Linked DNA regions of Homo sapiens. The protein of the gene in region 2 interacts with the protein of the main gene of each other region in a biochemical or structural test. Each region holds a gene or a part of one and is shown on either strand. Other genes may lie near its edges.

Region 1 (8,088 bases), about 99 Mb from region 2:
GCCATCACTCTTTTTGTCATTATTCCAGGCACTAATAAAAGGCACATTTGTGCATTCAAACTATTTCTATCCCCTTGCCATATCTAAAACATCAGGGAATATCTGGAGAATTACTCTCTCTCTAGTTCAAGTAATCATTCCCATCATCTAAAAGGGTTGTGAAATCTTATATTCTTTGATTAAATGTTCTCAGACTGTTCAGAGAAGAGCCAAGACTTCTCTCCTCCTTCCATCCTACTCTCCCCTCTATCTCCGTACCCCAGCCCCTACCCCAACCTCTGCCAAACCTCACCATGCGACTGCCAGGGCTACTAGCATTGATCTTCTGCCAGGCTCTTACTCTCAGCGAATGGTCAGTGTACACACCTTTGAGTTGGTGCTTTGATCTAGACATTTTCTCCTATTTGATGTATGAGGTATATAACTTTCAAGTGCATTTCTCTTAGACTGCAAGTTCCTGGAAGGCAGGGCTGTCTGTAAGAATGAGGAACTTTTTCTAAGCAGAATCCATGTAAGTAGCTGCTGCTTGATGATGGGAATAGCATTTGAAATCCCTCAAATAATATACAAAATGTAATAGCTCATAACTTGACTTCAGTCCTAGGTATGTAGCTACACCATCTCATCCACCCAACACCCAGTGTTTTCCTCATCTGGTGGAGTACCCAAGAGTCATGTTCACTTTGATTCTCGGTCTGGCAAACTCATGCTACAACATCACTGGGGATCTGTGCCTCTTTCTAGAGCCTATACAGTGAGGGACAAAGCCTAAGTGTGGATTCCAGTGCATACAGCTTTAGAAGTGACCGGCGCCTTGTCGCAGCCATACTTACTTGGTGACGTGGGGGAGGCTGCACCTCCTTCTGTTGACGTGGTTGGAGGCTTTGTGTCTGGCACCGGCAGAGGCACAGGCCTGGCCATCGGTGGTGGCGGTGGCGGTGGCAACATTGGGGTGGGAAGGAATGGGTTGTGCACCTTGCCTTGGCTGCTCCCATTGGGCTGTGGGGGGGGGGGGGGCAGAAAACACACGTACAAGAAAAAGAAGAAAGAGACAGCAACCATTAGCTGCTTCTGAAAACAAAATATTCATCAGGCACCTTTAATGTAAATTACTAAGTATCTAGCTGCTTCAATTCTTCCATAAGCCCATACGGAAATGTCCATTGTTGGGTTCTGTTCTTAAGGCATTTCACAAAAGTACTCTTAGCCACATGTGCTCCATGCATCCTAAACTTATCTCTTGAACTACATTGTCCTTCTTTGCATCTGGTTTCATAAAATCACCTGCCAATTATCACTTTGGATTTGTCCCCTGAGTAACCAACTTTTGCTTGGAATCTTTTGTATTTTTCTGTATTAACTGCTACCTTCATTATCTTTCTCATGATTATTAAATATTTAATATCTAAGTGTTTTATGGACTGTGGCATTATTCCACTATGTTTCTTTACATAGATAGAATAAATTTTCCTAAATATGCACTTGAGATAAAAAAGTAATATTTTATTTTCACTCTTCAAAGTTGATATTATATAACATTTAATAAATGTGTTAAGTGAACATAGAAAATTTTGTTCACATATTGTATAACATCAGGCACAGAAACTTTAGAATTCAGCTGTCAGAAGTCTGCTAGGGAAAAATATCACTTCTAATTTTGATTTAAATTATATAAGCATATGCCATAAGAGTCATATTTATTTTGCTGCCTGATGTTAAAACAACCAAATAACAGCTCTTTAACAAAAAATTCCCCTCCAAAGAGAGCAATAAAACCCATTTTATTTTCAATTTTTTCAAAATAGTTTCATGAAGAGACCTGCCTTAAGTCCTATAAAATTCTGATCAAAATGCAAAACTGGGCATTTGACAGTTATATAGGGTGTCAGGACTATTACAAAAATGGTTAATAATTTAGAAGTCAGATGCTTGATGCTGGTGATCAGCTCAGTTTTTTCATTGTTTCCCAAGAGGCCTCTATTCAACCAACGACAACAGTTCACATTTAGTCCCCAATCAAAATTCGGTTGAAGGAGATTCTGCTGTCCCAGGCTTTTACATTTAAGCTTAATAATTCTACAGAGGCAGTCTCACTCCCCCATCAACATTTACTTATATATTTAGTACTTATATATTTAGTATTGCTCCTCAAAGACTACCTCGTCTGACGATCAGAATGCTGTGCTTTCTTGCCAGCAACCTTGCCTTTGCGTTATTTCTGAGTGGGCTGAGAGTCCATAAGTGAATGCTTTAGAATAAGCCAAGCAAATGAATGTACAAGCAAAAAGAAAAGAGGCACCATATTGATTTGTTGTCTAGACAGAAATGTATCTGCTAACACATCACCAGACATTAGTCAAAGCTGCCTGTTCTGGCGCAGATATGCAGAATCAGGTATTTCTGCAAGTGAAAAAAATCGGTGACAGGATGGTGTGACATACTATCCTAAATTGGCCAGTAATAATTATGGCTAGTCTGTGACTTCATGCACAGTTATTAGTAGAAAAGGAAAATCAAATTTGGCTTTATGCTGGTCGTTGTTTATTATTATTGGCCTTGAGATACAGCTTTCCACTGTAAACATCTAATCCTATATTTGAAATAAAATTTCTGATTTTTAAAAATCACTTTTACATTTGGAATGCCATTTCAAATTGTGATTATTTGGTTTATTTGAGGAAAAATAAAAACATTCATGTGAAGCTATTGAACACTGTTTAGCTTTATACCAAGATAAGTGGGAAAGATAATGACTTGCAGAAATAACAAACCATAATAAACTGTACTTTCAGCATCTTGAGTTCAAGTACTGGTCAACTTGATCTAAAGTGTTACAAGACTGTATTTTTCAAAAATATCAACTTAGTTGATCTGAAACATCTGTCCCCTTCATCTCCCTACCTTTCTCTACCACCCCAAATCATTATTTAAAACTACTTGGTCTTTCTATTTTGTTAACTGTATGAGCCCTGGGGTTAGAATGCACGAGGTGGAATGATCAGCCCACAGAACTTAGAAGGTTATATAGTTCACCCTTGAGCTGATTTATATCCATAAACTTGACAGTTGCAAACTTAACACAAACACTGTTTTTAAACCCTGACTAATCACTCTTAGACCAAGTTAACTTTCCCACAATCTAGAATAAATATGACATTTGCCTGCAGTCAGTCAGCACAACATTAGAGCACAACGTCACATGATCATAAGGTCTCCCCTTGTTATTTTTATATTCGGCTAACATTTCTAAAGAAATGGAAAAAAAGAGGTTTCCTTACATTGAGGAACCCCACCTGTCCAGCCTGCTGACCAGCATCAGGGCAGACAAGTTGGACAAATTCTTTCAGCGTCTCCTGAGGGTGATAGCGGATGGCTGGGTGTGAGAAGTAAGGCCCAGGCTGCTGGATAATGGGTGATGTCGGGAAATGAAGAGTCGATGGTGTTGCATGCGGACTTGCTGCAGGAAAAGAAAACATCAGGGTTATGAAAAGAAAGACCTGCTTTGTCATAGCTGAACCCGATTCAACTTCCTCCTTTATTTCTCTTCCTGGCCCGATTCACAATATTGCTCATGTGACTGAATTTAACACTGGATAGGTCTGACAGATTTTCTTCCTTAAGGCTCTAAGACAAACACGGAGGTTAGATTAGGGTAGAGTTTCAAGCTGTCTTTCTATTTTCAGTGGACATGAGTTATAAAGGCATTAATAATCCTTGGTGAGGCTGAAGATTATTCATTACCTTAAGAGCCTTTTTAATGAAGCAAGCAATAAAAAATGTATTTGGTAGATTAGACCTGACTTAACTGACATTACATATGACAAATTCTAGTTTGCACATATGGATCCCCTTTCACGCTGAGCTATCCATAGACAATAATTCATTGTTAAACCTCTTATACCCCTTTCAAGGAAATTTCTAGGGACTAATTCAGGATGAAAATTTTTTGAAGTATGTAGTAAATGATCACTTAATGAGCCCATGCAATTTGGGTGCCTCACTTTACACGGATGGTTTATGTCGCCTTCAGATGCCATTTCAAAGACAAACTCAGAAATGCACATATGTTACAGCAGGGGAACCCACAGGGTAAGCAGGCAGTGACCCCTGCTAAAATGTTGGCCCTGTGCCCATAAAAACTGATAAAAGACTCAGACAACTACTGCTCCCTTACATTTGAACCCTGGTAAATTTCATGTGAACAAGAAGATTACATTAGATTAAAAAAACTTATGTGAGGTGCCTAATAACTTCTCTAAGAGAACTTTTGCCCTTGAATTAGAAGGATGATTGATAAAACTGGCTGGAGGATAAGAGCAGTGCATGGGAAGGTTGCAGATATTCAAACCAAGTCAAGCCAAGATAGCAGCAGCTCTTGCTTCTCAATGAGAGCCAGAGAAACCTCTCCCAAATTAGAGGAGATGAAAGTATTTATCTTTCCTTTCTTCGGTTTAAATCTTTAAACTGAAAATCACAGGAATGTCCACATTTTGGAAAATAAGACCTTTCCAATACCAAGAATGACTCATAATACTGAAGAGAAACTCAGTAAGACAGGCCATCACTTCTACCACTATCCCACTTGCATGGCTAAAGGCTGTGAAAAAGAATGCATCTGTATTAGTTGCTGGGCATAGGTTCTTTGTTCCCTACCGGGATCTCCTCATGATTGGGGCACTTTCTGACTAATGACTGAAATGGCTCATGCTATGGGGTTCAGAGTGACATCTGTAGTTTTCAAAAAGACTGGAAATGGGCGATTGGAGGGGAAGCAACTTTCCAATCCATGTCTTGCAGGTGGTCTGGTGCAACCCTTTAATTTATGCAATCTTTAATCTGCCCAATAAATATTCATAGGCTCCTACTATGGGCTCAAGAAACAAATCTGAGCCAAAACAGATGAAATTTTGCCATCGGTCATACAATTGAGGATGTCTCAAACATAACCTATTTGAATCAGAATTTTCATTACCTTCTCCTCTCAAGCTTACACTTCTCCCAGCCTTCTCCATCTTCGTAAATACCTTTTCAACCCACTGCAATATCCCCAGAACTGAGTCTGGCACTCAATAAATATTTGTTGAATGTGCAGTGAATGACTGAATAAACAGAGGTTAATAAGATAATCATACCGTTAAACATAGAATAAAATTTGCTAAAACCAAAACTTGGTTTCTCCACCTGGTCAAGAGCCAGGGAGCTTTTAGAAAAATCGGTAAAACTGGCCTGGTACGGTGGCTCATGCCTGTAATCCCAGCAATTTGGGAGGCTGAGGCAGGCGGATCATGAGGTTAGGGGATTGAGACCACCCTGGGTAACACGGTGAAACCCCATCTCTACTAAAAATACAAAAAAATTAGCCAGGTGTGGTGGTGGGTGCCTGTAGTTCCAGCTACTCCAAAGGCTGAGGCAGGAGAATGGCATGAACCTGGGAGGCGGATCTTGCAATGAGCCGAGATCGCGCCACTGCACTCTAGCCTGGGCGACAGAGGGAGACTCCGTCTCAAAAAAAAAAAAAAAAAAAAAAGAAAAATGAGTAAAACTTAGGACTTCCTGCAATGAATGATAAATCTTGGGATCTATTGTTGTTGCTTGTTAAAACCCACAAGCTAAAAAGTTAAATGGCTCTGGTCATCTCTTACTCTGCAAATTATGCCATTGGCTTTCAAGAATCAAAGGAATTTTTTCATCCAACATGGTACAGTCCTCCTTGCTGGTGGCAAAAAACTTGTACTCGGTACCCTGCGTCTGATGGAATAGTCACTAGTTAAGGACAGAATGTGATATTTCCCAAACTAGGCTGAGAATATACTGAGCCTAACAAAACGAAACACTCAACTTTTGCAGAATGCCAAACACAAAGGTGCCAATTCTGCTGACAAGAGCCCCTGGTAGGCTGACCTTGAAGATAAAGTGCCGCTGCCTCAGGTGCTCAATGGAAAGTGATGGGTAATTGTTAGATTATGAAATCACGGTGGCCTACAGAAAATGCTGCCCAAAAAAGAAATTCACTTGAGCAAAGATCAAGCAGAGCTGATCTTTAAAGAAATGAGATAGAAGAAATAACTCAAAAGCACCCTGTCATCTCCTCATTAACTGTTATAAACATCCTTTCCCTCATTTTGTTGTTGTTAAATACGTAAAAGACAATCATTAGCAACTTAAATTTAGACCTTCGTTTTTTATTTTACTAAAAACAATTTATTCACCATTTCCTTGTGGAACAGAGTTTAACACAAACACAAGAACATATGGTACTATATGGAATTAATTCTACAATGACTGATTTATAAGAATCAATTAATTCTTAATTAATACCAGGAAATCATTTAGCCTGTAGTTTCAAATTGGGCAATTGCTGAGTCTGCATTTTAAAGGGTCATCCTTTGCAACCCTTACTTTCTCATGCTTTGGACTTTCTGGTTCAGTCATCAGTTCACTGTGCAACTGGAGAGAAATCATTCGAGATCCTGAACCTTCATTTCTTCAAACAGAAAATAGTTACGTTACTGACATCACAAAGCTCTAGTTATTATTAAATAGATGCTATTTCTCTAGATAACCTGCTATTCCTCTTCTACCAGACAATGAAACCCACTGAAACTCAGAATTAAGATGTCATCAATGCCTGCCTAACTTTGTTTCTCTTCTCTCCTATTTCTTGTTTTCTCTCTTCATCTTGGATGTTTTTACTGTACCTAAGTTTTTATTTGTCTCAAATCATTTTAGAAAGAGCCACTGGGGTTAAATCAATTAAAGAGTAAAATTCATCAACTATATTTTGAGGTGGCCAGATCAGGCTTTATAGAAAAAAACTACCATTATGAATTTGGCATGATGCTAATGGAATGCACGAAGAATGGTATGAGTCCAGATTTTTGACGAAGAAAAACATGTCTTATGGATGTGTGTGTGTGAGTAGTTGACACCATAAAAAATTATAGCACATTATGTAAATGCATATTTAGATCCTTTAAAATGTGCATTATTTACTTGAGAGTCAATAAAGGCTTTTCTCAAGTGGTTACAGTTTATTGCAGTGCATCCATCTGTATCCACATTGATGTTAATACAATTTTGTGTATTAAAAGACACTACAAAATTGGCTGCTTCCGGCATCTAATACTCTTAGTACCCTAGGCCAGGAGCAGCAGAGAGTGTCAGAAACACTTCACTCCTGATGGATCTCACTACTAGTTTAAACTTTAACGAGTGGCCAGACTTGTTTAAAACAACTGTTTGGGCTTTTCACAAAGAATATAAATAAGATGGGAAGGAAGGAAATTTGATCAGGTTTCTTTGGCTGCAATGGCACTGCCTACACATCCTGAACAAAGTAGCCACAACGAAAAGAAACAGAGAGCCACAATTTCCCAAAGGGTGTAATACTCAGCTATTTATTACAAAATGATCATATTACTGGATACTTTGAAAAACGAAAGCAGGTCAGTCAGGTTGGTTTACTTGTTCATTCCCTCCCCACCAGTCCAGCAGCCCACCAGTTCTTAAAAATCCTCTCTTGGTTTTAGTTTAAAGGAGAAAAAGTTAAAAATTCAAACAATTGAAAAAATACATATACATGTTTAACTCAAAAATGCTTCTTCCGTTAAAAGCAGAATTTATTAAGACTGAGAAAGGAGAAGGTCAGGATCATTATTGTATTATTGGATATGTTGCAAGACTTCTATAATACAACCAGTGATTCTTGGTCTGAGAGTCCACTATGGGGAGGAGGTCTTGTAGACACATAAGAGTGCTCTTAAGAGGAGTCAGAACTAGTTAGAAAATCTAAGCGTGGGCCATATGAAATAGGATGGTATCAGGGAGCTGTGTCCAGACAAGCTTGGAATCTTGCATTTTTCTGCTTTTATAAGTCTTAGGGAAGAAAAAGAGATAGAAGAAGAAAGTAATCTCTTAGTATTTCCAGTAGTTTTTCTCAAGCTCATCCTCCAAGAACTCTAATAACTCTCACACATTTTCCCTCAAACCAAAATTTTATGGGTTGAAATATGTTCTTCTGTATTATAACCCTGACATTGCCTTAATTGTTTTATTCCTTGTCCATGAACCGTTGCAGATTCTCACACA
Region 2 (5,452 bases):
CCACTAAACAACAACTCCCCTTTACCCCCTCCCTCCAGCCCCTGGCAACGGCCATTCTACTTTCTGTTTCTATGAATTAGACTACTTTAAATACCTCATATAAGTGGAGCTATACAGTATTTGTGTTGTTACTGGTTTATTTCACTTATCATCATATCCTCAAGGTTCATTCATGCTGTAGCATGTGACAGAACTTCCTTTTTAGGGCTGAATAATATTCCACTGTATGTATATAATACATTTTGTTTATCTGTTGTCTATTGATGGACATTTGGGTTGCTTCTACCTCTTGGCTATTGTGAATAGTGCTGCTATGAACATGAGTGTGCAAATATCTCTTTGACACCCTACTTTATTTGTATATATACCCAGAGGTAGGATTCCTGGAGCATATGGTAGTTCTATTTTTTATTTTTTGAGGAACATTTATACTGTTTTCCATAGTGGTTGCATCATTTTGCAATCCCAACAAGGCATAAGGGTTCCAATTTCTCCACATCCTTGCCAAGACTTATTTTTTGTTTGTTTGGTTTTTGTTTTTATAGTAGCCATCCTAATGGGTATGAAGTGATATTTCATAGTGGGTTTGATTTGCATTTTAATGATTAGTGATGTTGAACATTTTTTCATATGCTTGTTGGCCATTTGTATAAAATCTTTGGAGAAATGTGTATTCTAGTCCTTTACCCATTTTTTTCTTAAAAAATGTTTATTTATATAAATTTATGGGGTACAAGTGCAATTTTGTTACATGCATAGATTGCATAATGGTCAAGTCAGGGCTCTTAGGATGTCCATCACCTGAATAACATACACGGTACCCATTCTGTAATTTCTCATTTCACGCCCCTCCCAATCCCTCCTTTGCCCATTTTTAAATTGGGTTATTTGATTTTTTGCTGTTGTTGAGTTGTAGGATTTATTTATATGTTCTGGATATTAACCCCTTATCAGATATATAATTTGCAAATATTTTCTCCCATTCCATAGATTGCCTTTTCACTCTGTTGATTATGTTCGTCAATAAATTAAAGTCTGATGTGGTCCCGTTTTTTCTATTTTTGCTTTTTGTTGCCTGTGCTTTTGGTGTCATTTCCAAGAAATCACTGCTGAGTCCAACATCATGAAGGTCTCTCCCTATGTTTTCTTCTAGGAGTTTTATGGTTTTAAGTCTTTAATCCTCTTGCTCAGTTTTAACCTGCCTGGTGTATCCTTCTCATCACTTCTGTTCCTTTCCTGTTACTCGTTTTCTCTTCCCTTCTTACTACCTTTCGTCCTCCTCTTCCTTTCACCCTGTCCACCTGCCTCTCTGTCTCTCGGCCTCTCCCCACCCCCCGACCCCCACCAGTTTCTGCTGTTCTTCCCTCACATTCACAGTTCCTTACCCCTCCCAGCCCATCTCAAACCTGCTTTCCCACCTCTGAGCTGAGCATTCCCTCCTCCCTCCGCTGCTATCACTTCTCTCTTCTCTTTTTCAGGCTTCAGACTGGCACCCTGACCATGGAACCCTGAAGTGGCAGTGACTTCTAGAGCTCAGTGGCAGACCCCACGACCCTTCCTCCCCCTTCCTCCCCCTCCCACCACCAGCTTTCAAGCTCCCAGAGGGAGGGGTGGGGAGGGGATCCTGATCTCACAGGGCAGGGGGCTTCCATCATGATGCTCAACTCAGACACCATGGAGCTGGACCTGCCGCCCACCCACTCAGAGACTGAGTCGGGCTTCAGTGACTGTGGGGGCGGGGCGGGCCCTGATGGTGCCGGGCCTGGGGGTCCGGGAGGGGGCCAGGCCCGAGGCCCAGAGCCGGGAGAGCCTGGCCGGAAAGACCTGCAGCATCTGAGCCGCGAGGAGCGCCGGCGCCGGCGCCGCGCCACAGCCAAGTACCGCACGGCCCACGCCACGCGAGAACGCATCCGCGTGGAAGCCTTCAACCTGGCCTTCGCCGAGCTGCGCAAGCTGCTGCCTACGCTGCCCCCCGACAAGAAGCTCTCCAAGATTGAGATTCTGCGCCTGGCCATCTGCTATATCTCCTACCTGAACCACGTGCTGGACGTCTGAACTCAGCCTGTCTCCCACCTCCCGGGCCTCTCTGGGGCCCCTTTCCACCGCTCACTGCTTAGAAAGGCCGCATCCTCCCCGAGCCCTTATACCTTGGCATGGAGTCCCAAAGGCCCTGGGCACAGGCAGAGAGCCCACCGGCTGGTCATGAGGGCCTCTTCCTTTCTCTGACCCAGGCACCTCGAGGGCTATTCTCCTGGGTTCCTTCCGGGGTTTATTGCTGAGGCCCAGCTGTGCAGAATTGTTTGCTAGTGTGGTTGGTATGGAATCCTTGCTGGCTTTACTAAGCCAGCCACACTTGGAGTCTGCCCCCAAGCTCTCTCACTGAATGCTGCCTCTTCTACCCCTATGTCCAAATTTTCAGCCACCACAGACCTCAGCTGTGTATCCTATCTGTTCTAGCTTCTCCTGCCCCTGGTGGGGATGGGCTGTCAGAATTGCAAGGGAGGAAGGCTGGGGTTAGAGTGGGGAGTGGGCTTCTTCCTCCAAGATCTCAGTCTCTCAGTGCTTGGCAGAGGGGTGAGGCCCTGGGGAGGCAGGGGTTGGTGCCCTGACTCCTGTGAGGGGAATCTCAGTAGCTGGGAATTATGGAAAAACTCTTCCTGTTTCTGTCCATCTTGTTCCTGTGGCTTAGCACATACAGACCTCAGATCTTACTTGGTAGTGAGTGCCTTGCCCTCTTTGAGCTATTTGGCTACTTCCCTGTCCCTCTGACTCCTACTGTCCCAATTTTCTCCCTCCCTGTGTGTCACTAGAGAAAAAAAAAAACAAAAACCTAGATTCCGGATTAGGGGATGACATCCCAAACAGCCCGGAGTATTTGCAGAAGGCTCAGGCAACGAGTGGGCCACATCTCACTTCTGCTTCCTCATCTCAGCCCACTCTGAAAATGTGCAGCACCCTCACTGGTTCCTCCCCCCAACGCAAGGAGGATGCCCAATTGTTGCCCTCTGAAAATGCACAGTTCTCCTGGCCCTAGGACTTACTTATTACATTTTTTTCTCTTTCCTTGAGCTGCCTTTGGCAAGGGAAGAGACCCCCAACTCTGCGCCCCTACTCCATGCTGCTGATCCCCACCTGCGCACTATAGCTCAGGGTCAGCAGTGGAATGAAGGGCCTTAGAACCTGCATAGAAGAAATGAACTCACTGCATTTCTGTGCTCCCTCCTCCCTCGCACCAAACTCCTAGCTCTACAAGTATATTTATTTATTTATTTATTTATTCATCTATTTATTTACTTATTTATTTATTTATAAATATTGCTATTTATTGCCGAGTTGTGCACTTTGGGGTAGAGTGAGGGGCTCCCAGCAGCTCTAGCTGGGTCTCTCTTGCTTCCTCCCTGCTTACGCCTTTCCTTTTCTTGCTCCTTCTTCAACTCCTGGTGTGTGTGAGCATGCCCTTTGCTTGCCACACCATATCCTTTCCCCAGATCCACCTGTCCTGACACTCTAGTCCTCCAGGATAGTGCTCCTCCCCCAGCTCCAGGGCTCCTGGATGTCCTTCCTCAACTCCCTCCACCCCTAGACAATCCTACCTGGTCCCATCTGCCTCTTTTCTCTCCCCAGCCTGCCCTGTGACCCTTGCCTCTTCCTGATACTCCCAAGAGCAGGCCCCAGGGGTCTGTGTCACATATCTCTGTGTGATTCCTTCTGGTTGCATCCCCAATTTCATACAAAAAGAAAAATAAAAGTGACCTCGTTCTAGCACCAGGTATGGTTGTGGCTCATTCAATTGGGTTAGGAAGCTGGCCTGCAGGTTATGGTAGGGTGGGCATTGAGGGTCCTAGGCTTCGTAGGCTCTTCTGATGGGGTCAGGAGAGCTCAGTTTGGGGAACAAATGAAGACAGAGAAAAGGGGCCACAGGGAAAAGAGGTGCAGGGGAGAGTATAACATACAGGTCCAAGATCTCCTCACCAAAATCTGGGTGCCAGATACTCCCTTCTTGGCACTAATTTAGTGACACTATCTGACTTCTCTGATGTTGTGCTTCCGCTCCTGCTCTCTATGGCCTGAGAAGGAGGTGAATATTTCGGTGGAACCCAAGTTAAACATGTGTCTGTGGGTCCATGCTGCTGGGAAAAGCTATGGTATGAAACTGAGACATTGCCTTCCCCTTTATTGTCTCTAGGCTGGGTCAAAATTCCCTGCAATCTCAGTTCTTGGCCTATTTTGTGTTCCCCAGCCTTAGGATACTGGGGAAAACAGATGGCAGGCCTGGGACTCAGAGAAGAATATGGACAGGGATAAAAAAAAAAAAAGAGTGCTGAAGGGACCCTCAAATGAATTTATAGATGGGGACACTAAAGCTCAGAGAAGGGTAGGGTCTTACCCAAGGCCACACAGCTAACTGGGGGCACAACTAAGGCCCAAATCCAGGTTCTTTCTACCATATGCTGCCAACTCCCCTCTGCCTCCCTAAAATGACCCAGGCTGACAGTTAGCCCTCTTTTGGACCCCATATTTTCATAGGTGCATTGATAAACTAGAGAGGATTTAGGGTTGTGTGGCGAAGAAACCAAAAGGTCTGGAGACCACTTTATAGAAGAAATAGTTGAAAAACTGAGGATATGTGTCTTGATAAGAGTAGACTTGGGGGTAATATGACACCCATCTTTAAATATTGAAAGAAGAATCAAAAATGGATATTCTGTGGGGCCCCAGTAGGCCGAACAAAACCCGTGAGTAGAAGTTAGAAGAAAGCAGATTTTAATTTGAAGAAAAATTTTGCAACACCTGGAGCTGTCCAGCAATGGCACTGACTGCCTCAAGAGGAGAACTCCAAATAGAGAAGCTGGAGAGTCAACCACACGCAGAGAAATCATAGAGCACATTGCTGCCTCAGATGGAACACTGGCTAGGTTCATTAGAAGATCCTCTCCAAACTTAAGGTCATACGAGAAGGCTGAAGGCAAACAGCAGGAGGGAAATGCAGAGACAACTTTCAGTCCCTGAAATATTTTCTTTTTTCTTTTTATCTTTTTGAGACAGAGTCTTGCTCTATTGCCCAGGCTGGAGTGCAGTGGCGGGATCTTGGCCCACTGCAACATCCACCTCCCCATTCAAGCCATTCTCGTGGTTCAGCCTCCTGAGTAGCTGGGACTACAGGCGCCCGCTGTCATGCCCGGCTAATTTTTGTGTTTTTAGTAGAGATGGGTTTTCGCCATGTTGGTCAGACTGGTCTCTAACTCCTGGCCTGAAGTGATCCTGCTGCCTTGGCCTCCTAAAATACTGGGATTACAGGCATGAATCACCATGCCCAGCTATGGGTTTTCATCTTTGATGAACAAAGAATGACATAAGCAGCATGAAGGGCTTGAGTTAGACCTAGGGAGGAGCTTCCATACAGGAGGACTTGACATCTTCCCCTTCCCATGTGAGTTAAATGACATGTGCT

The links. The genes of interacting proteins can lie anywhere in the genome.
Region 1: the proteins of NHLH1 (region 2) and NFIA form a complex in vitro, tested with the Homo sapiens proteins (one study listed by BioGRID).

Annotation. Positions count from the first base shown.
Region 1 is NC_000001.11:61,399,473-61,407,560, reverse strand, and holds part of NFIA (nuclear factor 1 A-type), read right to left. Parts: intron 3,458-8,088; coding exon 3,279-3,457; intron 1,000-3,278; coding exon 834-999; intron 1-833.
Region 2 is NC_000001.11:160,369,079-160,374,530, forward strand, and holds the end of NHLH1 (helix-loop-helix protein 1), read left to right. Parts: intron 1-1,478; 5' UTR 1,479-1,653; coding exon 1,654-2,055; 3' UTR 2,056-3,768; downstream 3,769-5,452. UniProt on the Homo sapiens protein: May serve as DNA-binding protein and may be involved in the control of cell-type determination, possibly within the developing nervous system.